4 linked regions of the Homo sapiens genome follow. The protein of the gene in region 3 interacts with the protein of the main gene of each other region in a biochemical or structural test. Each region holds a gene or a part of one and is shown on either strand. Other genes may lie near its edges.

What was found.
Region 1: of the proteins of CSN1S1 (region 3) and KLK6, one has a biochemical effect on the other in vitro, tested with the Homo sapiens proteins (one study listed by IntAct).
Region 2: the proteins of CSN1S1 (region 3) and POLI form a complex in vitro, tested with the Homo sapiens proteins (one large-scale study listed by BioGRID).
Region 4: the proteins of CSN1S1 (region 3) and CSNK2A1 form a complex in vitro, tested with the Homo sapiens proteins (2 studies listed by BioGRID, with this or other methods).

Annotation. Positions count from the first base shown.
Region 1 is NC_000019.10:50,963,092-50,967,660, forward strand, and holds part of KLK6 (kallikrein-6 isoform A preproprotein), read right to left. Parts: intron 4,406-4,569; exon of another isoform or gene 4,235-4,405; coding exon 4,078-4,234; intron 1,420-4,077; exon of another isoform or gene 1,337-1,419; intron 576-1,336; exon of another isoform or gene 465-575; intron 459-464; coding exon 211-458; intron 1-210. UniProt on the Homo sapiens protein: Serine protease which exhibits a preference for Arg over Lys in the substrate P1 position and for Ser or Pro in the P2 position.
Region 2 is NC_000018.10:54,292,065-54,299,995, forward strand, and holds the end of POLI (DNA polymerase iota isoform a (long)), read left to right. Parts: intron 1-1,584; coding exon 1,585-2,403; 3' UTR 2,404-6,170; downstream 6,171-7,931. UniProt on the Homo sapiens protein: Error-prone DNA polymerase specifically involved in DNA repair. Plays an important role in translesion synthesis, where the normal high-fidelity DNA polymerases cannot proceed and DNA synthesis stalls. Favors Hoogsteen base-pairing in the active site.
Region 3 is NC_000004.12:69,934,068-69,942,889, reverse strand, and holds part of CSN1S1 (alpha-S1-casein isoform 1 precursor), read right to left. Parts: intron 8,679-8,822; coding exon 8,646-8,678; intron 8,201-8,645; coding exon 8,180-8,200; intron 6,965-8,179; coding exon 6,941-6,964; intron 6,435-6,940; coding exon 6,411-6,434; intron 6,325-6,410; coding exon 6,283-6,324; intron 5,770-6,282; coding exon 5,746-5,769; intron 5,091-5,745; coding exon 5,067-5,090; intron 3,715-5,066; coding exon 3,682-3,714; intron 2,870-3,681; coding exon 2,846-2,869; intron 1,872-2,845; coding exon 1,830-1,871; intron 845-1,829; coding exon 827-844; intron 355-826; coding exon 313-354; intron 1-312. UniProt on the Homo sapiens protein: Important role in the capacity of milk to transport calcium phosphate. Casoxin D acts as opioid antagonist and has vasorelaxing activity mediated by bradykinin B1 receptors.
Region 4 is NC_000020.11:533,741-542,562, forward strand, and holds part of CSNK2A1 (casein kinase II subunit alpha), read right to left. Parts: intron 1-8,822. UniProt on the Homo sapiens protein: Catalytic subunit of a constitutively active serine/threonine-protein kinase complex that phosphorylates a large number of substrates containing acidic residues C-terminal to the phosphorylated serine or threonine.

The sequences.
Region 1 (4,569 bases), on a different chromosome or scaffold from region 3:
ACATTTTCCATTGGCTGTTCACTCACTGGCCCAGCTCCCAAATTCACTCTCCCTCCCCCTTGACCTTTCTCCCATTGAAACCCTGTCCCATTGGTCCTCACCATTAGCCCATCTTCCCATGGCCCCTCACCAATTTTCCCACTCCCCATCCTTTGGCACACTTCCCCAAGTAGCCAGTAGCCTGCTCCCCACCAGCCTCCCACTACTGACCATCTGCTGTCTTGCCCCAGCCCAGGATGTGGCAGCTGGTGGTGTTGGCTGAGCAGTCCCTCTCCAGGGGAAGGGGCTGGATGAGTTCAGAGAGTTTGGCTGGGCGTGCCAGGCGCAACAGCATGATGTCCTGGTCATGGCTGGCGGCATCATAGTCAGGGTGGATCACAGCCCGGACAACAGAACTCTGCTCCTGGGAACTCTCCCTTTGCCGAAGGTTATGCTTCCCCAGGAAGACCTGAAGATTCCTGGGAAGGAAGAGGGCTGGGTCTCACCTGGAGCCCTTGGGCTGCAGTTGAGGCTTCAGAGAGGGCTGGGAAGTCATGAATCGCTGGCCTGCTCCTCCCACAGTCTTCCCCAGCTGGGTAAATGGCAATTCCATCCTTTCAGAATAATCTTGGGGGCTATTCTTCACTCTCTTTATTTCATGCCCTACATCCAAGCTGTCCAGAATTCCTTTTGCCTCTCTGAAGCATATCCAGAATCTGGCCACATCTCACCTTTCCCACGGCTACCATCTTGGTTTGAGCTGCCTTTTCACTTCCTACCTGAACTAGAGCAGTAGCCTCCTCACTGGGCTCCCTGCTCTGTCTCTGGTCCCCCACAGTCCATCCTCCACAAAGCAACCAGAGATATTTTAACAATGTAAGTTGGTCCTGTGCCTCCTCTGCTCAGCCCCTCCTATGACTCCCATCTCACTCAGAATCAAAGCCAAAGTTCTCAACGTGGCACACCAGGCCTTGCAAGCACTGCCCCATCATCTCACAGACATCTTCTCCTCCCACTCTCCCCTTCTCTCCCTCTGCTCCAGCCAAACGCTGGCTTCCCTGTCTTGCCTTGAACACAATAGTGATCTTCCCACCTCAGGGCCTTTGCACTGCTGTTCCCTCTGCCAGCAAGTCTGTCCTCCAAGTATCTGCATAGCTCACTCCCTCACTTCCTTTAAATGTCGCCTCTCAGGGAAGCCTTCCTTAGTTGCCCAATTAAAATACAAATACCTGTTAGTAGGCAATTCCTATCTCCCTCCCCTGCTTTCTGTTCCACCAGAGAACCTATCACAATCATCCGACCTGCTATATATTTATTGTTAAATATTTACTCATTGTGTTATTTCTCCTCCTTGCAGAGCAATGCTGTCCACTAAATGCTACGATGCCATGATCTCGATCTGCACTGTCCAGAGGTGGCTGGGGGAACCACAAGCTACAGGTGGCTGCTGAGTACTTGAAATGTGGCTTGTGGATTTTCCATTTCATTAATTTCAATGTAATTTGCTATATGTGGCTGATGGCTACCATATTAGACAGTGCAGCTCTAGGATGTCAAGATGGGGATTTTTGTTCTATTCAGATATAGTATCTCCAGTGCGTTGATCAGCACCTGGCACAGGATAGGTGTTTGATACATATTCCTGAAACAGAGAGTCACTCCCTTGCTCAGACATCACCCATGGCTCCCCATTGTCCTAAGAATAAAGCCTGGGCTCCTCCACTTGGCACTGGAGCCCCTGTGTGATCTGGCTGTAGTCACTTTCCAACCTTATCTCCCAGCACCTTCTGCCCCCCAGTGAACGGGAAATTTTATTTTCTGAGAATACTCAAGACGGTTCTCACCTCAGGGGTGTTATCACAGCCTTTCCTCTGCCCTGAACATTCCTTTTCCCATCTTCATGCCTCCGCTTGGATTTTATCTCATTAGAAAGTCCTTCCTGACCCTCCTCCATCTAAAGTAGGTACCCGTATTCTTTTCCTTCATAATTTGTAATTATATGGGGTTTTGAAGGGTTTGCTTCTTTTGTTTGTTTGTTTTTTTGAGACAGGGTCTCGCTCTGTCACCCAGGCTGGATCTGCAGTGGTGTTCTGTAGATCACAGCTCACTGCAGCTTTGTACTCCTGGGCTCGAGTGATCCACCCGCCTCGGCCTCCCAAAGTGCTGGGATTACAGGCATGAGCCACCACGGCCAGCCCAATTTGCTGCTTCTTTCTTTCCTTTTTTTTTTTTTAGACAGAGTCTCGCTCTGTGGTTCAGGCTGGAGTGCAGTGGCGCGATCTCGGCTCACTGCAACCTCCGCCTCCCACGTTCAAGCAATTCTCCTGCCTTAGCCTCCCAAGTTGCTGGAATTACAGAAGCCCACCACCACGCCTGGCTAATTTTTTGTATTTTCAGTAGAGACAGGGTTGAGCCATGTTGGCCAAGCTGGTCTCGAACTCAGGTAATCCACCCACCTCGGCCTCCCAAAGTGCTGGGATTACAGGCGTGAGCCACCATGCCCAGCCCTCACTTTGCTTGTCTGCACCTTTCTGTCCTTGTGCTCCCGAGGGCAGGGATGACGTGTGTGTCCCATCCATTGCTGAATCTCCACTGCCCAACTCGAATGTGGCACTTAGCAGGTGCTCTTAGTCAATGTACATCAAAGGAATGAATGATGGTGGTGAGAGTCATCCAAGGTCTCCTTGGGGTCAGGGGAACCACCCCAGGGATTGTCACTTGCTATTTCCCTGCACCTCAGTTTCCTCATTTGCAAAATGGTGCCAAGAGTCCCTTGTGGTGGGCATTCCAGGAAAGGTGTGTACATGGTTTCACTCAGCACCTGATTGGTAGTTAGCATCAAACAAGTGGCAGCTGTCGTGAATCTGACTAGTGAGGATCAGCGCCCAGGGTTTTTGTCCTGGGCCCTCCAGCTCCTCCAACTATGCCAGCTTTTTGGATGATCTCATCTAGTCCCATGGCTTTAAATACACCTGTTTGCTGACGATGCCTTCATTTTAACCTCCAGCCCTGACCTCTCCTCTGAGCTCCAGAGTCCTCCCTGGCCTCCCTGCTGGGACATCTCCCCGGCATCTCCAACTCATCGTGGCTAAAGCAAAATGTCAGATGCTCCCCTGCCTACACCCGGCCTGTTTCTCTTTCCCTCTCCCACAACTCAGAGAAAGACGTGGCAAAACACCCAGTTGTTCAGGACAAATACACGGAAGCCAGCCGTGCTTCTTCCTCTCCCTCCTGTTCCTCGTTGCCAGATTCTGCTGGCTCAGTCTCAGAATTCCACATCCCAAGATATTCAACATCCCTCCATCCCCACTGCGACCGCCTGGGTTCAAGCCACCCTCCTATGTCGCCGGATGAAAGCAACAGCCCCCACGTGGGCCTCCCTCCCTCTCTCTTGCCCAGACCACGTTCCACGTGGTAGCCAGGGTGCTTGTAAAAATGTAAATCAGGCTGGGTGTGGTGGTGGCTCATGCCTGTAATCCCAGCTCTTTGGGAGGGCGAGGCGGGCGGATCACCTGAGGTCAGGAGTTCGAGACCAGCCTGGCCAACATGGTGAAACCCCGTCTCTACCAAACATACAAAAATTAGCCAGGCAAGGTGGTGCACACCTGTAATCTCAGCTACTTGGGGTGCTGAGGCAGGAGAATCGCTGGAACCTGGGAGGCAGAGGTTGCAGTGAGCTGAGATCATGCCACTACACTCCAGCCTGGGTGACAGAGCGAGACTGTGTCTCAAAAAACAAACAAACAACAAAAACAAAACTGCCCAGTGGCTTCCTACTGTGCTCAGAATTAAATCCAAATGCCCATCACGCCCTGCAGGTCCCCAAATGATCCAATTCCCCCATTAGAAAGTAAGTTCAGGAAAACAGCAATTTTGCTTGTTTTTTTTTGTTTTCTTTTTTTTATTTTCTTTTCCACTGCTATGCCCGCAGGGCCTGGCACACATTAAGTACTCAATTAAGCAACAGCCGAATGCACCTGGCTATCAGATGGCCTCGTGCTGGGATGGGGGGGATGCCTATGTCACCTCCTGCCTGACATCTATAAGACACCCTCAGGGTTCAGTCGCATCTGCTGTTCATTTACAGTGTAGACTCACGGTTTTTTGCAGTGGGCAGCTGTGAGGACCCACAGTGGATGGATAAGGACCCCACCACAGAGCAAGTGGCCCGAGGTGTAGAGGGCAGCTTGGTAGGGGTGAGATGTCTTGTCGCAGGGTCCGCCATGCACCAACTTATTCTGCTCCTCTGCCCAGGCTGAGGGAGAGAAGATCTGAGTCAGAGAGGAGTTCTGGAGAAACCAAGCGCATCCCCCTCAACATGAACTCCAGTCAAGATTGGTCAGGTGCAGTGGCTTATGCCTGTAATCCCAGCTGAGGCAGGAGGATCGCTTGAGCCCAGGAGTTTGAGACCAGCCTCGGTAACACAGTGAGACCTCATCTCCACACACACACACACACACACACACACACACACACACACAAATTAGCAGGGTATGGTGGCATACGCCTGTAGTCCCAGCTACTTGGGAGGCTGAGGTGGGAGGGTCACTTGAGACCCAAGAGTTCAAGTCTGCAGTGAACTATGGATCA
Region 2 (7,931 bases), on a different chromosome or scaffold from region 3:
TTCTAAGTATACTCTTATGGGATTTGTGTGGTTACATTACAAATCTAAGTGCTTGTCTTTTTGATATAGTTTAGAGATTCTTTTGGGTGATATTGTTTAGGTGATTAACTTGTTTATAATACCTATCTTATGGTTTCTGGCCTTAAATATGCTGTGATCTAAGAAGAAAACATAAGCATCACTGGATAAAAGAGAGAACCATTATGGAGGTTCTCTATTTTGGAATTGTTAACACATTTTATAGTATATAAAAATATGATGGATTAGCTCATAAGTATTAAAATATTTGCAGATATTAGAAATCACATCTTTTTGTCTTTTAGCTGACACATGAGCTACTAGTACCTTTCCCATGATTCTTTTGTTAAAGTATTTACATTTTCTTCATTTTGAAATAGTATTGAATTTTGATAGCAATATTGATAGATTTGACTACTGATTTCATAGTTGTAAAGTTAACAGTGTGGCAATAGAAAGGCAGAGGCCAGTCACATTTTCAGACGACTAAAACAAAACCCTTTTATTAATAGACAAACCACTATTTAGTAAATGTGGGTTGCCTTAAAAACAATTATTTTTTACTAAATTGTTCATGCCTATAATTAACTCAATTTAAAATACTTTTGTGTTTGTTTAGTCAGTATAATTTTAGTAACCTTTTCATTTTCATTTAAGTTTAAAGTGAGAACAGGATAGTGTATGGAAATAGTGAATTAATGCTCTCTTCAAATTACTTTTTTCTGTGACCCTTCTTATTCCATTTATTAAATTTAAAAAAGTGTTTTCTTTTTACATTTTAATTAATCTGTGAAATTGGAATTAAAAGTGCTCATTTATAGTGGCATTAGAAAAGTAAATATAAGTGAAAGTACCTTGTATGTATTTGTCACACAGTAGGTAGTCAATAAATATAAGGGCCTGAATCTTTTCTACTACTTTTACTTTTTTGGAGTTCATATTGTGTTGATGTTTACGGAGTTATATTTGACTATGTTTATATTTTTATGGTGCTTGAAACTAAAGGATTTAAATGAAAAACTGTATAGAAAAATTATGCAAGTTAGAGTTGAAAGTGTCTTTAAATTTTTATTTTATATAAATATAAACTAGTACTATATCTTGATGATGTTGGGTTTTGTTATAGGCTTTTTTTTTCTTTTTGTTAAAAGTTACCCTTTAGAATAGTAATTTTTGGAAAACTAGCCCTTGATGCTATATGTGTATGTTTTTTTGAAAAATACCCTTAGGTGAACTTGCTTTTCTAGGCCGCCATTCTTTTATTTATAGAATTGAAAGTTTGGTTGCATGATTGTTACAATCTTCCCAGGTCTCCAAATGCATATTTACCTCTGTCTCAGTGCTATCTAGGAAGGAAACCTCTTCCTGGAATAGTGGGTAGAGATTCACAAAATAGTGTGAATAATTGTGGTAGTAGATCTCTAGTTGTTTGGAACTGGCCACAAAGAGTTGTATTTGTTGAGTAGGTTAGAAACATGTCAGATAATAGCTACAGGCACACAGCAGCAGCAGCGATATTTAAAAGATATCAGATATGTAAATTAGTCTGTTATTCTTGTGTTCTAGAAAATGAAAGACACTCATATGGAAGATTTTCCCAAAGACAAAGAAACAAACCGGGATTTCCTACCAAGTGGAAGAATTGAAAGTACAAGAACTAGGGAGTCTCCACTAGATACCACAAATTTTTCTAAAGAAAAAGACATTAATGAATTCCCACTCTGTTCACTTCCTGAAGGTGTTGACCAAGAAGTCTTCAAGCAGCTTCCAGTAGATATTCAAGAAGAAATCCTTTCTGGAAAATCTAGGGAAAAATTTCAAGGGAAAGGAAGTGTGAGTTGTCCATTACATGCCTCTAGAGGAGTATTATCTTTCTTTTCTAAAAAACAAATGCAAGATATTCCCATAAATCCTAGAGATCATTTATCCAGTAGCAAACAGGTATCCTCTGTATCTCCTTGTGAACCGGGAACATCAGGCTTTAATAGCAGTAGTTCTTCTTACATGTCTAGCCAAAAGGATTATTCATATTATTTAGATAATAGATTAAAAGATGAACGAATAAGTCAAGGACCTAAAGAACCTCAAGGATTCCACTTTACAAATTCAAACCCTGCTGTGTCTGCTTTTCATTCATTTCCAAACTTGCAGAGTGAGCAACTTTTCTCCAGAAACCACACTACAGATAGCCATAAGCAAACAGTAGCAACAGACTCTCATGAAGGACTTACAGAAAATAGAGAGCCAGATTCTGTTGATGAGAAAATTACTTTCCCTTCTGACATTGATCCTCAAGTTTTCTATGAACTACCAGAAGCAGTACAAAAGGAACTGCTGGCAGAGTGGAAGAGAGCAGGATCAGATTTCCACATTGGACATAAATAAGCATATTCAGCAAAAAGGTCTGAAAAGCAAGGGAATACCATTATTTTCGGATTAGCGGTTTATTAAGCTCTTCTATATTAAACACTAATAGATATTCAATAACGGAGTAAACTGTTCCAGATAAAGCAAGAATAGTTGCAAGAAGTAAATTCTGGCACAAAGCGTAAAAATATAACAGAAGAAATAATGTAAAATACTATCTTTTATGTCTAAAGCCATTTTATATTACTTTTCAATAAAAAGAATATCATGGTCAACATAGAATATTTTTCATGAATTGGTGGGGAGATGTATATGTTTATATATAAAAAATAGCCAAATCGTTGCAATGATATGGTAAAGGACACATTTTTTTTTTTTTTTTCCTGTGAAATGTGGAATATCTCAAATTCAGCCTCTTAGGCTGAATAGCAAATCCTACTGCCAACTAACCTATTAAAAATATAGATAGTTTTGACTAAAGTACTACATTACATTTAGTATGTTGACTTTTAAAATACCAAAGCAATTTATATTCAATTAATGCTTCTTCATACACCAAGAATCTACCACAATACACAGCACACAAAGGCCGTTCAATAAACATTGAATGAATGAATGGTTTGGCTAGGGCCAGGGTGGGGAGTTAAAGTGAGAGGAGGGTATATGTTATAGAGAACAGTGGTAGAAGGAACTCTCCGTGCAAGTAAATTAAGGGAAAGATGGACACCAGAAAGGCAAGGTGATGGGCCTATAAGCATACTGGATAATGGAAGAAGTCCATTTCTTTCTAGCTAGTTTGAAGGGCCTAAAAGCACTGAGATGTTTTTGTATCTTCCCTACATTTGGAGATGATATTAGGTTGTCATAACAACCACAAATATAGACCATTACTAAATTGGTGGATGTCCTCTTTCTCCCATTGTTATTGCCTTCCTCTTTTGCCTGCTAAACTAAAAATTGGATATAAGATTGAGAATGTATTATATAATTTGCAAGACATAGAGGATGTTTATAGAATATACTAAAGTATCCCTCAGCACCAATATGGGAGTATCCTGGTCTCAAGTTTATAATTTTTGCACATATAATCTAAAGAAGAGACTTTAAAAATAAAGTACACAAATATGAACCAAAGAGTAGCTTAAAAATACTTTCTTCTAGGTCTGAAATTTTCTTTTCTTTCTTTTTTTGTTTTGGAGACAGAGTCTCACTCTGTCGCCCAGGGTGGAGTACAGTGGCGCAATCCCAGCTCACTACAACCTCCGCCTCCCAGGTTCAAGCAATTCTCCTGCCTCAGCCTCCTGAGTAGCTGGGATTACACGCATGCCCTACCACACCCAGCAAATTTTTGTATTTTTAGTAGAGATGACATTTCACCATATTGGCCAGGCTGGTCTCGAACTCCTGGTCTCAGGTGATCCTCCACCTTGGCCTCCCAAAGTGCTGGGATTACAGGTGTGAGCCATTGCTCCTGGCCCCAGCTCTGAAATTTTAACTTAGTTTTGGATTCCTTGGAATTTGAAAATATGCTAACACGAAGGATTGTAAATAGGTAGTTTGAGGTTATCAGGAACAGTAACTTGAAGCAAGAACATCAGAAATTGTTCACCATGCAAATATTTAGTACTCTGAATCAAGGAACATAGTATTTTTTACATGAGTATTCCAGTAAGGTAATTAAACTTATGAAAAGGGTATATAACTTTTTGTAAATCATTAAAACATTTTATAGTCCTTGTAATGATTTCAGGACCTTGGACAGCTAGAAGGGGCTTAAGAAAAAATGGCTAAGAAAACAAAGTAAATGGTTTTGGCCAGCTTAAAAAGAGAAAGCAAAATAGTTAAAAATACATTTCATAGATTGAGAATGTACGGGCTATGTCACAGTTACGCTACTTATTTTGTGGTTTTAAGTTAGTCTCAACATCTTTGGGCCTCAGAATCAACTTTTTTATGGGATCTTTTTTCTCTGTTTTTAAGATTATCTCTTTTTTCTTTGGTGCTTTGCAGGTTTACTGTATTATTTGGAAGTGCGAATTTATTTTTATTCTTAGTATATACTGGCTTCTTCCTGTATCTTTTAATTCATGTTCTGTAAAATTCTCAACCACTAGCTCTTCAAATATTTCTTCTCTATTCTAGGACTGTATACAAATGATAGACTTTCTTACTGTATCCTTCATGTCTCTTAATTTCTCATATTTTTCATCCTCTTGTTTCTCTTTACTGCATTTTGGGTAATTTCATCAGCTCTATCTTTCTGTTTACTAGTTCATTTTTCAGTAGCATCTCACCTGCTATTTAAAACAATGATGGTTTTAATTTCAATAAATATATTTTTCATTTGATTCTTTTTAACTTCCCGTTTACTCATTACAGTCCCTTGTAAGTCTGTTTCTAATTTTTAAAAGTCAAATATATGATATTTTTGATAATTTCAATATTTTAAGTCTTTATAAGTCTACATTTAAGGTTATTATTGCATATCATTGTGACTTATTTCCTTGAGTATGTGTTAATCTGCGAGAAGACAGAGGGCCTAAATTGTGTATGTTTTCCTTCAGTATGATTTGAGTTCGTTGCTTCTCTGGGTGAGGTGGTACAAACTCCTTGGCATACTCTATTCACCTTTGTGGATCCTGATTGAATGCCTTGTCTTAAGTGTAAGCTCCCTGACCCTTACTACTAGCCGAAGGTTTTGTCTCTGCAGGTCAATTCCAAACTAACAGGCAGATGCTGTTAGCTATCTGCCTCCAGGGATAAACCCCATCTTTCAAGCTTGCTTCTTGCTTGATGCTTTCTGCTGCTTTCTTGCTTTTGTTTCAGCTCGAGTTTGTTGTTGTTTTTTTTTTTTCCTGTTTCTGTCTTGAATGTAGAGGGTATTTTTATTTTTATTTTTTCTGTTTCTCTCTTGAGTGTATAGTGTAGAGGGGGTTTCTGTCTTGAGTGTAGGCCTGGAGATTTCCCTTATATGGTACAAACCAGCAATGAATTAAGAGGTCTCTTTTCTCCAAGATCTAGTGTTTTGTACTAGGAGAACTCTAAAAAGTATCTATTCCACTGTAGTGCCAAAGTACAAATTTATTTGGATTTATTTTTTGCCATCTTATTTTTTAATATATTTCTTTTTCTATGTTGTGCTTCTTTCCCACCTTTATCTCTCCTCCTATCTTTTGGGATCAGTTGGGTTTTCTATTTAATCATATATTTTCCCTTTACTGATTTGGAATGTGAATGTTACAAGTCCTTTTGATTATCCTTAAACATCTAAAAATGCTACCCTCTTTCCAAACAACACAAAGGTATTGAAATAACATTAATTCTAATTAAATTCCACAAGTTCTTTATTAAATCTCCAAATTGGATATTATTAGTATTTTATATAGTCAATGTTTATTTTTTTGATGGGACATGGTGGGGGCTTACCTTTTTTCTTGTGTGTCAGATGTTCCTTCTAGGTAGAATTCTTTATACCTTCTGAAATTATGTCCTTAGAGCTGTAGATTTAGAACTGACATCTCTTGAGCTGTTCTAAGATAATATCTTTTACTTTGGAGATACGCAGTTTTTATTATATGTCTAGCTATAGATTTATCATGGATTTAGGTTCATTATGAATCTGCAGATTTGTGTCTTCCATCAAATCTGGATTGTTTTCAATATTAAAAAAACTTCTATTTTAAAATCTGTATATAGAAAGGTACATAAACATAAATGAACATGTTAATGAGTAATTGTAACAACTATGTAACTGTCCAAGTCAAGAAATAAAACATATCAAGTAATCAAGAAGTCCAGAGTTTTCTTTGGGGTTTCATTACGTAGGCATGATTTATTAAAACCTTTACTGTGTGCTTGAACTTAATCTCCAGTTTCCCTCCTCTGTCTGGACATCAGGCTGGCTCAAAGTCTCAACACCCTAATCATGGTTGTTTTTTTGAAGTGAGCTACCTCCATCCTAAATCATCTTTTTAGCATTAGCTGTCTAGGGCCCACTGTGGGTCACATCATTAGCATACAGTGTCAGGGCTTACCATGAATAATGAAGGCACTTCTGTTGTTTAGGAAATTCCATGGGTTTTAGGAGCTTGGTGTCCAGGAACCCTGAACGAAGACCAGACCAATTATACTACAGAATCTTTTTTTTTTTTTTTTTTTTGAGATGGGGTCTCGCTCTGTCGCCCAGGTTGGAGTGCAAAGGTGTGATCTTGACTCACTGCAACCTCCATCTCCTGGGTTCAAGTGATTCTCCTGCCTCAGCCTCGAGTAGCTGGGATTACAGGCACCTACCACCACACCCAGCTAATTTTTGTATTTTTAATAGAGATGGCATTTCACCATGTTGGTCAGGCTGATCTTGAACTCCTGACCTCGTGATCTGCCCGCCTCAGCCTCCCAAAGTGCTGAGATACAGGTGTGAGTCACCACCCCTGGCCCTACTACAGAATCTTTTAAAATAAGTTTTGAGATGTATTATGGCCCCAAAGTGATCTACTTTAGTAAATATAGGTATGACTTGACTGACAATGTGGTTATGCTCAGATAAGCCCATTGTAAATTGAAAATATCATGAGTGAAATACATTTAATACATCTATGAAACATCATAGCTTAGCCAGGCCTACCTCAGACATACTCAGAGCAACTCACGTTGGCCTACAGTTGGGCAAAGTAGTGTAACACAAAGCCTGTTGACAGAGCCTGGGCCGGGCGTGGTGGCTCATGCTTGTAATCCTAGCACTTTGGGAGGCCGAGGCTGGTGGATTGCCTAAGCTCAGGAGTTCGAGACCAACCTGGGCAACATGGTGAAACCCTGTCTCTACCAAAATACAAAAAGTTGACTGGGCGTGGTGGTGCACGCCTGTAGTCCCACCTACTGGGGAGGCTGAGACAGGAGACTCGCTTGAACCTGGGAGGTGGAGGTTGCAGTGAACCAAGATCCCACCATTGCACTCCAGCCTGAGTGACAGAGCAAGACTCCATCTCAAAACAAAACAAAAAAAGCCTGTTTTATAATAAAATGTTGAATATCTCATGTAAGTATCATACTGCATATCAGTCACCGAATGGAATTAACAGCAGATACTGCTGGAGAAAAAATTAGTGCACTAGAAGTCAGAGCAATAAATTATTCAGAAAGAAACAGAGAAAAAATAATAAACACAGCATCTGTGAGCTATGAGACAACTTCAGGCAGGCTAATACATGTCTTATTCAAGTCCCCAAAGAAGAGAAGAGGGTGGGAGATGTAAAAAATATGTGAAGAAACAATGGAGAAATTTTTCCAAATTTGAGGTTAACTATAAACCCACAGGTCCAAAGAGCTTGGCAAATCCCAGGTACAATAAACGTGAAGAAAACTATACCAAGGAGTAACCTAATCAGAGCTCTTAAAACCAGTGATAAACACCATCCCTTGAAAAAGACATACTATTGCAGAAAAACAAGCAAAGCCAACAATTTTGAAAATATTGGAAGCCAGAAGACAGTGGTCTGACATCCTCAAATAAAGTAAAGAAGTGGGGGAAAAGTTGGTTAACTTAGATA
Region 3 (8,822 bases):
TACAGTTATTATCTTTAAATGTGAAGACACAATATGTCACTGTAAACATCAAGACATGGGAGTTTTGGAGGAGGAAATAAATTGATAGACACATATTGTTTTTCTCCACAAATGAGAAACCAAAGGTCCAAGAGAATACACAATGTGCTCAAGGTCATATGCTTAGAAGTTGTCAGAACTGAGATTTAAGTTGGGAGTGAGAAATGTTTGAGAAGAAAAAAATCTCTTCAAGAGTAGGGGGCTATTTAAGAGCAAACATATTTAAGCTTAACAAAATATTATCGTTTTGTAATATATTAAGCAAAATATTACCACTTGGACATGGCTGTTTTCATTCATTCTGCGAATTTGCTCCTGCATAAAAGGAAACACATTCTAAATTACTTAGACATCTTCTGGTACAACACATTTATCTTACATTGCACCAGAAGTATACATAACATCATTCATGAAATTTAGAATAGACTGTATTCTATGCCACAGTTAGCAAAAAATGTCAAAACACTTTTTATTTTCTAATGTCAGAAAAAAATTTTAGCTAAAGGCTAAGCTCACTATAGTTTGGAAAAATAAACAATTAGTAAGGTTCATACTCTGAGGAAAAATAATAACCTACCATTTCTCTAGGACTACATATTTTTCTATTTATGGCTATTTATTAATTATTTAAATTTTGTCTTTTGTGACTTTTAAGTAAAATATTATCAGATAGTGTTGGTAGAACACTCTCTCAGAATATATTTATGTTAAAAGAGAATCATGCATTATAAAAACATAACACATGAAGGAAATACTAAAATATTTTAGATTTAATAAATAATCTCACCTGGGCATGGGCAGCTTGCTAGGGAGGAGAAAACATTCTGTTTTAGTATTTTCATTTTATTTACTCATTAATAAGAAACATTTGCTGGGTACCTTCATTTGTTCAGGGACAATGTTAAATACTGGAGATACCACTGTAAAATACTACAAAATCTCTCAGGAGGACAAGTAGGTTCTAACAGTTGTGGAGGTTACAGACTAGCCATATCATATCTATGGTACTAAAATATATTATTCAGGTAATTTTCTAGATCAATAATGATGAATTCTATTGGGGTACTAATGTGTTTAAATTTATTTGGATACTATTTTAAACACAAGTTACCTGAAAATGGAAACTAGAGTAACAATTAGGGTCCATATTAAATTCATTACTGATTTTCATCTTCCTCTATTGATAACGATTAAAAATGCTAGCATGCAATTTTGCTGAACTAAAACCAAGCATTTCCCAAAGCCTTCATTACGTCAAATTTGTTTGTAGTTACTGAAAGGTTTTTATTGTCCTCCCAAAAGAAAGACTTTTATGTTACTCAAAAGGGTCAAAACCAGTGTTAAGCAGATTATGTGAGTTTTGACAGAAGCAAATCTGATGTTTAGCATTCCTGTTTCCTTTCCCAGAATCTATCCTGTTTCCTTAAATGGAAAGTTTATTTGACATATCTGTGATTTCACAGGTAAGCATATTTGTGAAATTCTCAACCAGGACATAATGTATCATCAGGGAGGTTAAAAGTGGATTTGCAGTAGAATGTAGTCACTTTCTCCCTGGTTAGTAAGTATGGATAATATATAGAACTTTAGTCCAGGAATAAAGAGAATGAGCATTGCCCGCAAATATGCCGGCAATCATACAAATAACTTGCCAATTATTGGTCAAGGCTAGAATAAATAATTTCTTAAGAAAAATAAAAATATATTTAGAAATGGCCCCAATTTAAAATTTAATATGTTTTAATTCTATAGTAGAATATGATTTTGTATTATAATGAATAAAATATTACCAGCTGAAGTTGGTTGTATTCGTTCAGTCTACAAAACTGTTCCTATTTAAAAAGAAAAATATTCTCAATTGCTTGGATGTCATTCAGTCCAACCCCATCATTTTCATATGATGAAACAAGAATCTAACAATGCTCTTTCCCAAGGGTAGAGAATGAGGAACTATTACACCTGAGTGCCATTTCTACCCCAAATAATTTGGATCTCTTCCATTATTCCCTTTTAAAAACATTTTAAAAAGCAACTTCTTGAATTTAAATTATAATTCTGTCTGATATAAATTAGTACAGCCAATTTTAGTTACAATATATCAGAATTATTAAGAAAGTTAAAACTGTTTTTTTGTTTTCTGACTGTGAAGATTTAACTTTGGCCAAATTATATTAGAATATTAAATGGACAGGGAAAAATAATTTTTCAAATGCTATCCAACATTTATTGACAGTTTGCTCTGTGTCATGGATTACATTAATTGCTTTACATCATCTAATATTTATTATTATTGCCATTTTAGGATTAAGTTATAGACTTATACTGGGAAAGTGAACGGTTCAACATCACATACGTGTAAAAGGTAGAGCTATGAGTTGAACTCAAGTGTAACCAGATCTATAGACTGCCACTTAAATACTATGTTATGTAGATTCAAAAGGAGACTATAAATTACAAATATTCAACTAAAACTGTGAATTAGATAACTGGGATAAAAAAAGTCGCTAGCTTTATTTTTAGAGGGGGAATAAGAAAACATCTAGATCCCATCAGACTAGTTACAATAAAGTCTAGCAGATATTGAAAAGGATAAATAATTTATTAATACAACATTCTCACTCATTCCTTGGTATATTTATTTGCCTTTGATAAAACTTTAATGCCACCTTTCCAGATGGCATTGGTATAGCATGTTTTCCCGTGTGTGTGTGTGTGTGTGTGTGTGTGTGTGTGTGTGTGAAAGTAAGTGCATTTTAATTATCCTGGAAAATATTAATATATTTTAAATTTAGCAAATATGTCTTACCGCACACTTACTGAGAGACATTTCCTTTAAAAAAATTAAAACATGCATAGTTTTAATTTCACGACATTAATTTACATTTAAAGTTAAAATATGAATCAACAAAACTATTACTAAATAATTGCAGTGAATTGATTTTAGTGATAAATTCCCAAAAAACTGAGACAAGATTAATAATTTGAACCACATATTATAATCACATTGCTTTTCCTTTTCTCACTGCTTTAACCACTACATTGCTCCGAATGCTGGGGGTGGATGTGAAGTAATGATTTTTATTCAATTAACAGAAACCCCACTTAAGTGAGTTGGTTTTATTTTGGTAACTTGCATGAAGGTCTTCTTCCAAAGTCAAAGGAAAAACCGCACCACTTTTTTTGTAGGCTGACTTTTTTTCTCAAGATTAACACAGGGCAAAGAGTGGAGAGTAGCTGGAGGAGTCCAGTGTCTGATTAATCTAGAATTGGTTAAATTCTAAATGGTTTATGAAATGTTTACTTCATGGGTTTATAAGCATGGTAATTGTTAGAATTTTTAATGATAAGATTGAGTTTTAACAAAATCTGCGAAGGACAAAGTAATTGGTTAAAAAAATAATTTGGACATCACAGATGGCCAGATAAGATTGTTTGCCCAGAAATAATTTTGTCAATTTGTCTCTGACAAACAATTGCTTTCTTACTTCTTTTGGATAGCTACTCACATACTAAAACTAGAATAGTGCCACATATACACTGCCTTGTACAATGAGACCTTAAGGGATATGTAATCCTCACGGTACAAGTTTTCATAATTTTTTAAATTAGTTGGGACACAGAATTAATATCAAAATTATTTACCTCACTCGATGAACTGATGCTGGATTCCATCTTCTAAAAGAAAGAAATCTAGTGTTAATTATCCCCTGGGATTTTTAGAATTTGAAGGAAACTAGTTCCATGTCATCATGGTGAAATGCTTACCATGGTAACATTATAACTGAATAAGTGGTATGGAAAAATTCAGGCGTACTACATTGTATTTTCTTGGAGTGTGAATTTTACTTGAAAAATTATGGTGGTAGGTTTAATAACTTATCTGGGAACATAAAAACTTAAAAACAATTGTTTTTAATTTAGGAAAACAAACACAAGTTTATCATTGAGTAGAATGCAAAATTTGCATAGATTTTTGTGACAAAAATGAAACCTCTAAGAAAGAACCATATTTAGCTGGGTACCCAGAACCCTGGGTTAAACATCTGTTCTCATCTGTCCTTGGGGCTTCTTTGATGTGAATAAAATGGAAACATTAAATACAATGCACAATCTTAAGATGAAATTAAAATTACATTAGATTTTAAAATATTTACTTTGAAATATTTACTTTTTCTTCAAAGTCATTTATGTTTATATTTATATATACATATAATTTTACTTTCCAAATACATACATATTTTAACAGATTAATTTTAATATTCAACAGACTTTATCTCTGGGGATGGTTGATTAACCATATGTAATAAGTCAGCATTTAAAAAAATATAATTGTAGAGTAGGTAGTATAGCTCACTGATCCTAGGTAATTGCTGCCATAGATTCTTTCTGCCCAAGGAGAGGGAGAGGGGCGTGGGTTGACAAACTATTAAGTTGGTGCAAAAGTAATTGAGGTTTTTGCCATTACGCTGTAAAAACTGCAATTACTTTTGCACCAACCTAATAGTATTGCCATTATTTTTAATGGTAAAAAGCACAATAACTTTTGCACCAACCTATACCTGTTGGGTAGTATGCTCACTACCTGTGTCTAACATACTCATGTAAAAATCTTACATACATACATGCACTTGTATCTAAAATAAAAAAGTAATCTCATGCCCTGGGATGTCAGAGTCAGTGTTCTGTGGGACTCTCATTTTAAACATCCATGCACCTTTTGTTTTTATTTTATATTTTAATGAATAAGCATTTTTTTACTAATTATTATTTAAATGGCTTAAATTCCGTCTTCCAATTTCAACTTTATCTAGCACAACATTGTACATTCTTGAGTATAATATTCCTGTTTGAGAAGTTCAATAAGTTAAAATTAGAATAGGATTAATTTAAAATTAAAATGTTAACATTTTAAAATTCAGTTTCTTATTTTGCTTAATTTCAGAAGACAGTCTTTTTAAAATGAAGCATGCTGCATATACTATGTTTGATACGTAAGTGTAGAGTTCACTAGAATGAATGGGTCTTACCTCAGGCTCTGCCACAACACAGTTCTTAAGAAAGAAAAAATAATCAATTTCATTTTTCATGACAAATAGTCAAATACAAAAGTAATGATTACCAAATAAAATGGATGTCAAAGAAAATAGAAAACTGAGACAATATAAAAGTAATAAGAAAAACTAAAAAAACTGCCTACTTTATCTCTGAGCCAAATGAATCTGCATTTTGAAGTTTAAATAAAACGTTTCGGATTCTTCTATATTGTAGCAAATCAGTGAAAACAAGTTTACATTTTCCTTTATCCAGCATGACTTTTTGCTTTCCCTCTTTTAAAACTTGGCTTCTGGACTCTGAGCAGGACACTGCACTGAAGCTCATGCAGTAAATACAACTGGACTAAAGGAGAGCACTGATTTAATGGTGTGTAAATACCTAAGCAAAAGAACTTGCTCCATCTAGTATGTTTTGCTCAGTTTTCACGACTACAGCAATACAGAGATCAGTGACATTATCCATAGAATTTAAATTTAAAATATTTGTGTTGGTTTGGTTATTCTGGCCAATGTATGATACACTATTTCTTTTCTTTCTTTGAATTAGAGTTATCTGCCATAGTTTTTATTTAAAATAATAATTTATTTGGGGAAATATGTATTGTTTCTTTTCCTCATATTGGTTTAATAATTTTAAAACAAAGGGTCTCACCTGAGTAGACTCATTCCTAGTATCCTGCCAAGACAGTCAATCAGTTAGGTATGACAGATTGTTAAGAAGATATATATTTTATCTCATAAAGTTTGAGCACCTGCTCTCTCAATACCAATTCTACTAGAAAACTAGTAGACAATCCAAATCAAAGATGTTATGGTTAAAGAAAATAATTGAGTATGACTATGTAAATATTCTTGAGCCAGATATTGTATTACTTCATATAATACCCTTGATAAAGCATTCCTTTAATTTTGGTGATAAATGTGAATACATAATTGCATTTATTTGTTTATTTGTTATTTCATTCATTCACACTAATGCCTTGTTTCATCACAGTTGCACAATTAAGTCAATGAAATCATTTTCTTCAGAATTCTCAGCAGACTCCATTAGTCACTACAAATGTATGAGTGAAAAGTTCAAGGAAAGGACAAAACCATAGAAAAATGCTTTTTTTTCCTAAAGGAAAACTTTTTTTCTACTACAAGAATATATACTTTTGCCATACTCTTTCAAGAAAAACTTTGGTACCTTGATTTCATCAGTCTGTTTTTCTCTCAGAATGTTTCTCTGCTAAAATCAATAAAGTGTACCTTGTAAAATATGTTTTCATGAAAACAAACTTTTAACATAATTTAAATTTCATTGATGTTTCTTACCCTGTTCATACCATTCATGTATTCCTTAGGGATAAAAAAGAAAACATAAACAATATTAGTGAAACAAGACATACATGAGTGGAAATCTATGAGAAACTGTACTTCACATCGTGCTGATACAAATTTAAAAATAAATCCATTTTTCCTGAATGAACTAATATTCCTTATTATATCATTTCTAACCTTAAGTGGTCTTTCTCACTACACAATTAAGTCAATCAAATCAGTAGTCTTCAGAATTCTCAGCAGAATTCATTAGTGCTGATACAAATTTAAAAATAAATTTATTTTTCACAAATGAACTAATATTCCTTATTGTATCATTTCTAACCTTTAAGTGGTGTTTCCCTACTCCTTCTTTGTGTAAGGCTAGTATGTAAATGTGCATTTAACAATATTTTTAAGTTTGTTCCACTCAAATTTGTTATCCTTGACTTTCACTTTGTTTTAGGCACTGTTCTGAGTCTCCTGATCTTAACACTTACTTCTCTTTGTTAATTGCACGGTAAATTCTGTGGAGTCATTCTTACCTCTCTTGATTCTAATGGTATAGGCTACAAAAAAAAAAGTTATGTTAAAATTCATTCATAGTTGAGTTATCTATCAAATCATTTAGATAATGTCCTTGAATTAAAACGTTATGTTCTTCTATTCAACAATTAAGTCAAAAATTATAGAGAATGTGACACATATGTATTATTTATAGTTAAGAGCATTCTATTATAAGGAGTGAGGAAATTGTAAACCTCTACATACGTCACGGAAAGGAGAGCAGAGTGTTTTGGAGAGGCAAACGTTTAGGTACAAATTAAAATATAAAGCAGCTCTTTAACATATACATATCTTGTTTTTATATTCTTTCTGGGTGTTTGGATGACTGAATGAAGGGAAGGGTTGATTAACTTAGGTTAAACAACAACAACAACAAAAAACCACTTTGTTTTAAGGCAATTTCTTGCTCTGTTGCCCTTGTGCTATCACGACTCATTGCAGCTTTAACCGCCCATGCTCAAGTGACCCTCACACCTCAGCTTCCCAAGTAGCTGGAACCACAAGTGCATGCCGCCACATCCGACTATTTTTTTTTTTTTCAAAATTTTTTTTGTAGAGACGGGGTTTGGTTATGTTGCTTAGGCTCATCTCGAATTCCTGGGCTCAAGCAATCCTCCTGCCTCAGCCTCCCAAAGTGTTGGGATTACAGGTGTGAGCCACAGCACCCAGTGAAAAAAACATTTTTATAAACAAAAATTAAATAATTTTTCCCATAAAAGTATGTTTCTTCTTTTAAGAATAAGTGGATAACACTTACCAGAAGAAGCCTGAGAAACTTTCCTTCTTTGATAATTTCTTATTGAAATTAAATTGTGAATTATAAAAATAATAAAAACACCAAAAAACCACATTATTCTCATTTGAACACAAATGCTCCATTTAATTCGGTAAACCAACAGATTTCTTAGCTAGAAGAACAAATAATTAGTTTTAGTTTTATGATCTAATTTTACAATCTAAAGAACACCTACACCTTAATTAGTTCCTTCTTCACCAGGCCAGTAAATTTAATAAGTCTATGCTTACCAAAATGGCTAAGAAGTCAAATAGGAATTTCATCAAAACAGAATTTAGAGAGCAATCCAGGTACTTGAGTTGTTGGATGCATTTGAAGGGAAATAAAAATTGTAAAGAAGAAGACATTCAACATGCATGACAGCTAACTGAAAGAGAGCAAAAGGAAGAGAGAATCCTGACTCCCCATAAACAGAGCTTACCTCACTGCTCTCTGATGGATTCTGTAAAAAATAATAATTTTTAAATGGTATTATTCCAATTGCAGGACAGAATGTAGGATTAGTTGTGCTCATAGAAAGTTGTGGTAGAGGTAACTAATTCAAGATTCAACATATCAAATGAGACCAAACTGTAAATCACATGCTTGAATATGTGTAACATTGAAAAAAGCAAGAATACATTAAAATAAACATGTTAACACATTCTGTTTAATTAACTATTTCTCTGGAATAAAAATAAGATTTTTATTAACATAAATGTTTATCTAAGTCAGTGTGCCGTCCTCTAAGTTTTGTGAGAGCAAATACCATCTGACAGTGCTTGAACTAAAGAAATGATGCGTCAGCAAAAGTGAAGCAGGCTGTTTCATAGAGAAGGGAAGCGCACATTTGGAGTTTGTGCTTCACAATTAGAGTGAGTTCTTGGAATGCAGAATAGAATATTTACCTGAAGGCGTTCTGGGTATCTAAGAGGAAGTTTCTGTGAAAAACAATGCAAGAATTGTAAAACAAAAAGTAACTAAAATGACAATAACAATATAATAATACACATATAATACGATGATTTTTGACACTGCCATTTTCAAAAGGTATGTGTTTTAATAGCAATATTTGTCAGAGACCA
Region 4 (8,822 bases), on a different chromosome or scaffold from region 3:
CAACCCAGAAAAGGGATCTGAGTGTCAATGTGACATAAATGACATAGCAACAGTGTGAGGTCTCCCAATGAAGGGAGGTATTAGAAGAAAATCCAAGCAGTTTGATTTGGATTAATAGTTCTACCCCAAACACCTAAGAGAAATCGGAATTCCAGTACTGTCTCTTACAATATAGTCATCATCTATACACCTTTTTACCACGCCATATAAGCAAAATAAAGTCACAATGTGAAACTTTACTCCACTGGCTATTACCCTCTGGAACCAAAAGATGGAAAACTTCATTTGGGATATACAGTAATCTAAAGAAAAATTCAGCACTTATGAATGTAATAACTACTGTTACCATTTGAATGCCTCTTACAAACCAGGCACAGTATCAGATGCATATTCTGATTTTAGAAATAAACAGATTCAGAGGTTAAATAATCTGCCAAAAACAACAGGATTACTAAGTGGTGGAAGCCAGATCTGTTTAGGATCCAAAGCCTAAATAGGTTCTTTTCACTAAATTTAATACTATTTCCTTAGTTCTCCAAACTGATTTATTAACAGCCTATCCAAAACACTATAATAAAATGAACTGCTTTAAATTTGGAGGCAAGGTAGGGGTGGGATACTGAGTTTCAATAATCAGGTTTCTTCATTATTCTTTTACCTGAATGGGCTGGCCACCAGGCCACAATTGTATAAAAATCAGATTTTAAATGATGGAAAAGCTTTTCTGTGTGGCTACTGAAGGGAGAAAGGAAGACAACTGAGACATGCCCCACCTTGCTGGCTGGGGGCTGGTGACATCTGTGGGCCTCAGTGTTGGACTCCAGATGCAACAAAGCCTAAAGTTTTGAATATGTATGAAGGTCAATGTGATGTTTTCCAAAAACAGTCATAAAAGATGGCTGTGAAAAACCCCCTAGTATAACAACTGTATGTAACAAGAGCATATAGGTAGCTGCAGATGAATGCTCAGGTCCTTAGCTGTGGTGTTTAAAAATTCTTCAGACCAGGCTGGGTGCAGTGGCTCACACCTGCAATCCCAGCACTTTGGGAGGCCGAGATGGGTGGATTGCCTGAGCTCAGGTGTTAGAGACCAGCCTGGGAAACACAGTGAAACCCCATCTCTACTAAAATACAAAAAAAAAAAAAAGCCAGGCGTGGCAGCGTGCGCCTGTAGTCCCAGCTACTTGGGAGGCTGAGGCAGGAGAATTGCTTGAACCCGGGAGGTGGAGGTTGCAGTGAGCCAAGGTCGTGCCACTGCACTCCAGCCTGGCAACAGAGTGAGATGCTATCTCCCAAAAAAAAAAAAAAAAAAAAAAAAAAAAAAAATTTCTTCGGACCAGTGTGGTGGCTCATGAGTGTAATCTCAGCACTTTGGGAGGCTGAGTTAAGAGGACTGCTTGAGCCCAGGAGTTTGAGACCAGCCTGGGCAACATGGTGAGACCTTGTCTCTACAAAAAAAATTAACAACTACCCACAAAGAAAACCCTAGCTCAAGATGGCTTCACTGGAAGGAAAAATGAACTGGTCAGGAAGACAGACAAATAGAAGCAAATAATGAAAGCATTTTATTTGACATTGATAACCTTCTCACAATAAATTATGTGGCAAAATACATGCTTGAATACTTAATTGCTAGGCAATAGTCTATTTTCATTTTTTCACAAAAGGTAGACAACTCCAAAGCAGATGGCCATTTGTAGCCATTCTATATAATCATAAATACACAAAACACTGGCCGGGCGCGGTGGCTCACGCCTGTAACCCCAGCACTTTGGGAGGCTGAGGCGGGTGGATCACCTGAGGTCAGGAGTTTGAGGCCAGCGTGGCCAACATGGCGACACCCCGCCTCTACTAAAAATACAAAAATTAGCCCGGTGGGGTGGCATGCACCTGTAATCCCAGTTACTTAGGAGGCTGAGAGAGGAGAATCACTTGAACCCAGGAGGCAGAGATTGCGCCACTGCACTCCAGCTTGGGCGACAGAGCAAGACTCCATCTCAAAAAAAAAAAAAAAAAAAGTTTTAAAGTGCCGATAAATACAAGTTCCTGGTCTGCCTACAGTTTATCACTTAATAATACAAAGCAAACAAGAAAGCAAGTTAGTGGATTACCTGAGAGAGCAAGACATAGAGAAGATGTTAATGCAGGGAGCTGGCCTTCTCCAAACATATCCCTAACACACAATATTCAAGCAATTCCCAAACTGTGATCAGAGAACCACTGGGAGTAAGACCTCTGATCTATATTTACAAGTCTATAGGTGAGCAAAGGTAGACCTTTTCCTGAGTCTGAGATGGGAATATTACCTTCTCTATCTAGAAGCAAAAGAATCCTAGACTCACCAGGACTAGGTAATAGACACTGTACACGAGTAATTGAGGTAATCTACACTGGGCGTGACTTACATACTGATCCACCCCTAGGCAGCAATTCATACCTCACCCACCCAACAGGCTACATTAGAAACAAGGAAGTACAGGTCAAAAGTCTCATTAAAAAAATAAGAACTCTTGGCAGCAGAAAATGAAAATAAAGAATGAAGAATGACAGCACTGGCAATAAACACATTCTTTTCTCCGAAAGGGAAGGGAAAGAACTAATGTTGGGCACCCACATGCCAGACATTTTATCAATTTTCTCCTTTAATCCTCAATAATCCTGAGATAATACTAGCTAGTACTCTAGTTATTAATCCTCACAAAAATCCTGAGGTAGGTACTACTAATTCCCATGTTACAGGTGAAGAAACCAAAAGTTAGTAAGTTGCCCAAGGTAGTTGTTATCCGAACTGTAGAGACAAGAACTCCCAGACTTGAAGAGGTTAAGTAAACTTCCCCAAACTCAAAGTGGGAGTTCTTTCCCACTAACCTATTGCCTTCCCCTCCCTACCCGCAATCTCAATTAATTCTCTATTCTACCCCCTTCTCATTTCTGCAGCTGTTTCAAAAACTACACCTAAGATACAAAGCAAATAGGAGTTATTATAAGAAAACACCTCCAAAATCTACTAAGTTGTGGTATGATATGCCTGTTATCAGAAAACGTCACTCAATTTTGAGCTTGGAGGGCAGTGACAGTTTGGAGATCTTTAGCACAACGCCTGCCAGAAACGTGGCAGGCGCTCAGGATCTGCTGAATGAACAACATCTTCTGAGTGGTTATGAATTCAATAACCCAAAATGACCATCTCGTATTTCTGGATATGACATGATACCATTTTTTGGAAAATAATTTACCCATTCATTTTAAACAGGGTAGCTTTCTTAAAATTTATAGAACATTGATGAGATAGCTAAACTGAGAAATGCCCATTAAAGCATTAGTCATAACTTCAGGAAAATTTCAAATGTTCACTTTTCCAAGCAAATTAAAATGTTTCAGCTAATAAAAACCTGTCAGAAAAACCCACAAGACAAGAAAGTATAAAAAGAAAAGAGCAGCCAATATAAGGGCATTTAAGATGTCACACATAAAAAATTATAAAACATTAATCTAACTTGTACCTTGGTATTTAACCCTAAAACTGTCACCTCAGATAACACAATATTTTCTATGCAAGAAAACATTATCACCACGAATGTAAAGAAGCTTGCCGACCATAGCAACTGTTGCTACGTAGGGTTTTTTAATGTCTAAGACTGAAAGACAGAATTTGTAGAAACCAGTTAAAATGCCACTCTTAGCAGTATCTTGTGATACTGTGAATGCTTTCACCTTAAACTTTTTAAAAGACTCAATCTTTGACTTCTACATGTGAAAAAAAAAAAGTACATCTGGGAGCACTCAACGTAAGAAAACTACCAATTGTCTATAACCCAATGAAAATACATCCTTTGTTACAATGACAGCAGCTACTTTTCCTTAATAATCCTAGAGGAATTTCTTCATTTGAAAAGCTGGCTGGCCTAGATTTCTCTATAAACTAAATGACATGCTACTTTCGAAATTATCCATTTCAGAAGTTCAAAGAAATTCAGGTATAAGAACACATTAATACTCTCATGAAACAAACCTTATCCAGGTTACCCACGAATTGTGACAGATCAAAACCCAGTTTCTCATTTCAAATCAAGTATCACATTATTTATTACCTTAAAATACTAAGCCCTTACCTAATTCAATGGCAAATCATATTGGTTTTCAGTTTCTGAACTTGTACAAATCATACTGTAATATTTATGCAAAAGTTGTCATATAGTTGAATATTATAGACAGTTAACATCTTTTTTTTTTTTTTTTGAGACGGAGTCTTGCTCTGTCCCCCAGGCTGGAGTGCAGTGGCGTGATCTTGACTCACTGCAACCAACCTCCGTCTCCCAGGTTCAAGTGATTCTCAGCCTCCTGAGTAGCTGGGACCACAGGCACGCACCTCCACACTCAGCTAATTTTAGTAGAGATGGGGTTTTACCATGTTGGCCAGGCTGGTCTTGTCCTGACCTCAAGTCATCTGCCCACCTCGGCCTCTCAAAGAACTGGGATTACAGGTGTGAGCCACCATGCCCGGCCAACAGTAGAAAAGGGTACTCAGGGAACATAGTTCAAAAGTCATGATTCTCTATTGGCTGGACCAGGATTCTAGACTAGCTCTAGGGCTGAGATATCTTAGTAGACCAGTTAACATTCATGTGGCCCAATTTCCCTTACTCTAAACCCAAAGTCAAACATAACCTCTAAAGTCTTTCATACCCTGAAATGCTAATCTTGTAATCATCTTTCTATTCAGGTAATAACTCAAAAGAAATGGTCTCACTTCCTTCATCCTCTGACTAAAGTTTAGTTAGTCCATATTTTATGAATCCAATTAATAGGATACTTTAAAGAACAAAAAGAAAAGACTTTTCTTAAAAGCTAGAAACTCCATTCTGTAGTGATGATTCCCAGATCTGACTCTTAAACTCAACAACCTCAACAGACAATGACAGGGAGAAAAGATCTTACAAGTTTGAGCTGAGCTGGGGTGGGGTGGGAGGTGTGAGAGAACAGAGAGACAGTTACAAATTCACAAAAATGTATCACCCATTTCCATCTCCTCTAAAAAAATATGAAATAAGCCTTAAAAGGCTGTCATAGAAACCCATTATTAAGCCAATAAAAACTAATGAAGAAATTATGTCATTTATCCAAGATATGGAAGAACCACCTATTTACAGAAATCCTACCAATGTCCTAGACCTTCAGAAACTACATCTCACTAAGCTGACCATCAAGCCCCTTCAAACTGCATCTAAGGACAATAATAATATTCAAACATCAAGAAACAGGCACAGGTTCCACTCAACACCATTATTCCGTGGAGTCTTCCAGGACTAAATTGTTTTATAGAATCTTTGCTATCTTTGTTCTCTAGAAAATGATATCCCAAAGACTCTAAAATAAAACCAGCAAAACCCCTGTATTTGTTTTCCATTGTGTCATAACAAATTATCACAAACAAAACAACACAAATGGATTATCTTACAGAAGTCAGTGGGCTTGACTGGGTCTCACAAGGGCTAAATGAGGGTATCCAGTGGGTGGGTTCCCTGCTGGAAACTCTGGGGAAAATTTGCTTCCACATTCATTCAAGCTATTGGCTGAATTTAGTTCCTTGCAGCTGTAGGACTGAGTTCCCACTTCCTTGCTGGTTGTCAGCTGGGACTGGCCTTTCCTACTAGAGGCTGCCTGCATTCCCCGTCTCACACTTTCAATCTGGTCCCCTCCAGTAACGGCAGGCTGAGTCCTTCTCATGCTTCAAATTTGACTTCCCCTTCTGCCTCATCTCTGACACCAGCCAGAAAAAGTTCTCTGCTTTTAAGTGCTTATGTGAGTAGAATAAACCCACCCAGAAAATCCAAGATAATCTACCTAAGATCCTTAACTTTAATTAAATCTACTTAACATATTCATGTTCCAGGGTTTATAGTATGGAAATCGTAGGGGAGCCATTCTGCTTACCGCAGTCTGCCTTCTGGTTTCCAAGGATTCATCTCTCTCTCAAATGCAAAATACATCCATCCCATCCCAAGGTCCCAAAGGTTTCCCATCTAAAGCTTATCATTTCAGAAGTCCCAAATCTCATTCATCTATTCAGGTGTGGATGAGGTTCTGGGGACAAAACAGTAAGTCCAATTCCTGGGGCACAATTCCTAAAGAAACAAGTTCTCTACTCCCAACATACCACTGTGAGACATGTAGAGAATAACAGTTAGACATTCCAGTTCAAATGGGCAAAATGTAAAAGAAAACAGAGCCTCCGGTCCAAAGCAGTTTCAAAATCTAGGGAATCTCCATTCCATTTCAAAGCCTGGGAAAAATCCTCTCCAGCTTTTAGCTCCACCCCTCTGGGCTCTCCTATCTCCGTCTGAGTCACCCTGATTCTTTTATGAAAAGCAACACATTCACATGTGAGTAGTTTTATCAGCCTGCTTCCTATCAGTAGAATTTGGGGGGTCCAACAGCCCTATTACTTTCTGTCTCTTTCAATCCAAACTAGAACTGTTTATGTTGGCATAAAATTCTCAAGAACCTAATGGGCTGTGGAAGTATTCCACATGGGTCCACTCCATTAAAGTTCACATTCACAAATAAACCAGGCTGCACATTTAATACTTTGCTTGGAAATCTCAGCTAAATATACAAGTTCATCACTTGCAAATTTGGCTTTCCATATAACCATAGGATACAATTCTGCTAAACTTAGTTGCTACTATGTAACAAGGATCCCCTTTCTGCCAGTTTCCAATAAGAAAGACCTCACTTCTGTCTGGGCCCTCACTAGCAGAGTCATTAACATCCATATTGCTACTAAAAGTATGTCCTAGGCCTTTTCTTTTTTGACAGGGTCTCACTCTGCCACCCAGGCTGGAGTGCAGTGGTGCCATTACCGCTCACTGCAGCCTTGACTTCCTGGGCTCAAGCGATCCTCCTGTGTTCCAGGCCTTTTCTATCATGCCCCTCAAAACAATTCTAACCTTTATCTACTGCCACTTTCATTTTTAGGTAATAGTACCCCACTCCTGGTACCAAAATCTATACTAGTGTTCTACTGCTGCCATAACAAATTACCACAAATGTAGTAGCTAAAAATAACACAAATTTGTTATCTCACAGTTATTGTAGGTCAGAAGTTGGGTGGGCTTGGCTAGCTAGGTCTTTTGCTTAGGGTCTCACGAGGCCAAAAATCAAGGTGTCTCAAGGTTGCATTCCTTGGTGGAAACTGGGAAATTCACTTCCAAGCTCAATCAGGTTGTTGACCAAATTCAGGTTCCTTCTGGTTGCACAACTGAGGTCCCCATTTCTTTCTGGTTGTCAGCCAGGGACTGGTCTTTGCCACTAGAGGCTGCCCACATTCCTTCTGATAAACTTTCCATGTGGTCCTCTCTAGCAAAGGCAAATGGAGTCCTTCTCATGCTTCAAATCTCTGATTTCCTTTTCTGCCCATTTCTCTGATCCCAGTTGGAGAAAGTTCTCTGCTTTTAAGGACTTAAGTGACTAGATTCGGCCCACCCAGAAAATCCAGGATAATTTTTCTATTTTAAGATTCTTAACCTTAATTACACCTGCCAAGTTCCTTTTGCCATGTAACACAGGATAGCTACAGATTCTGGGGATCAAGGTATGGCACCTTGGGAAGAGGGAGATGTAATTCTGCCTACTACAAATCCAAGTCCTATGGAAGGGTTTAAACTCACTTCCTAAAGAAAATCATCCCTTTCTTTAACAGAGTGTGAAGTAAAGATGTATATATTTTACTTATGTGAAGTAAAGTATATATACATACATACATATGTCTTTACTTATGTGACACAAAGATGTATGTTCAGAGATAGAGACAATAGTAAAAACAAGGACTCACTCTGGATGAGTGAGTAGGAAAAGGACGCGCAGTATGGAAAAGGAGTTGCCACCTGTTTCATCCTCAAATTGCAAGGCACTTCACCCATAACTACTTAGAAACTAACCCATGCTCCTCCTTAAATGTGTATTTCTCTTCTCTGTATTCCACAAAGGAGTACATAACTAGGCTTTTTTTTATTTTTAAAGAAAAGTCACCTCACGGGGACCTAACTGTATAATCAGTTGATTAATCAATCTAAGCAAATTTCCAATCTTGCATTCTTTCTTCAAGTCATACACCCTCCCGCAATAGCAAACCAAAGCCAAGTATTTCAAAGTCACAGAAGGACAAAAACATGCCCTGCTAAGACTGCAGGTGAACTTTTGAGAATACCACGGAGGAGAACTAGTATTGGTACTGGACTTTCAGCCCCAGGTCCACCAAGCCAGTAAAGCCAAATGACTTACAACAAAACCCTACAACAACTACAAAGATACTACTCTAAAGCCCTGTCTACAGTCAAATTCTTGACTATAAATTTTACTTAGAACAGAAGAGCCCCAAATATACCAGCTAGTCCCTTTACAGTGACAGGTAAAAGCTACTTACTACACTTACTACCTGCCAGACACTGTAGTAAGCACTTGACACAAATTGTCTTATTTACTCTTCTCCGTAAACTCACAAGCTAGAAAATACCATCATCCCCCTTTTACAGACGGGAAAACTGAGGCTTAGAGAGTTTAGGTCACACAGCTAAGTAGCAATGGCCCTGATATTTGAGAACCTAGGCAGTCTGGTTTTTAACCACTGGGCCTACACTGCACTCCTCAGATGGAATGAAGTCTCCAATTCTTGGAAAAATCTTCCCTTCTTAGTTTTCTTTTTTCTTTTTGAGGCGGAGTCTCGCTCTGTCGCCCAGGCTGGAGTGCAGTGGCGGATCTCAGCTCACTGCCACCTCCGCCTCCCAGGTTCAAGCGATTCTCCTGCCTTAGCCTCCCGAGTA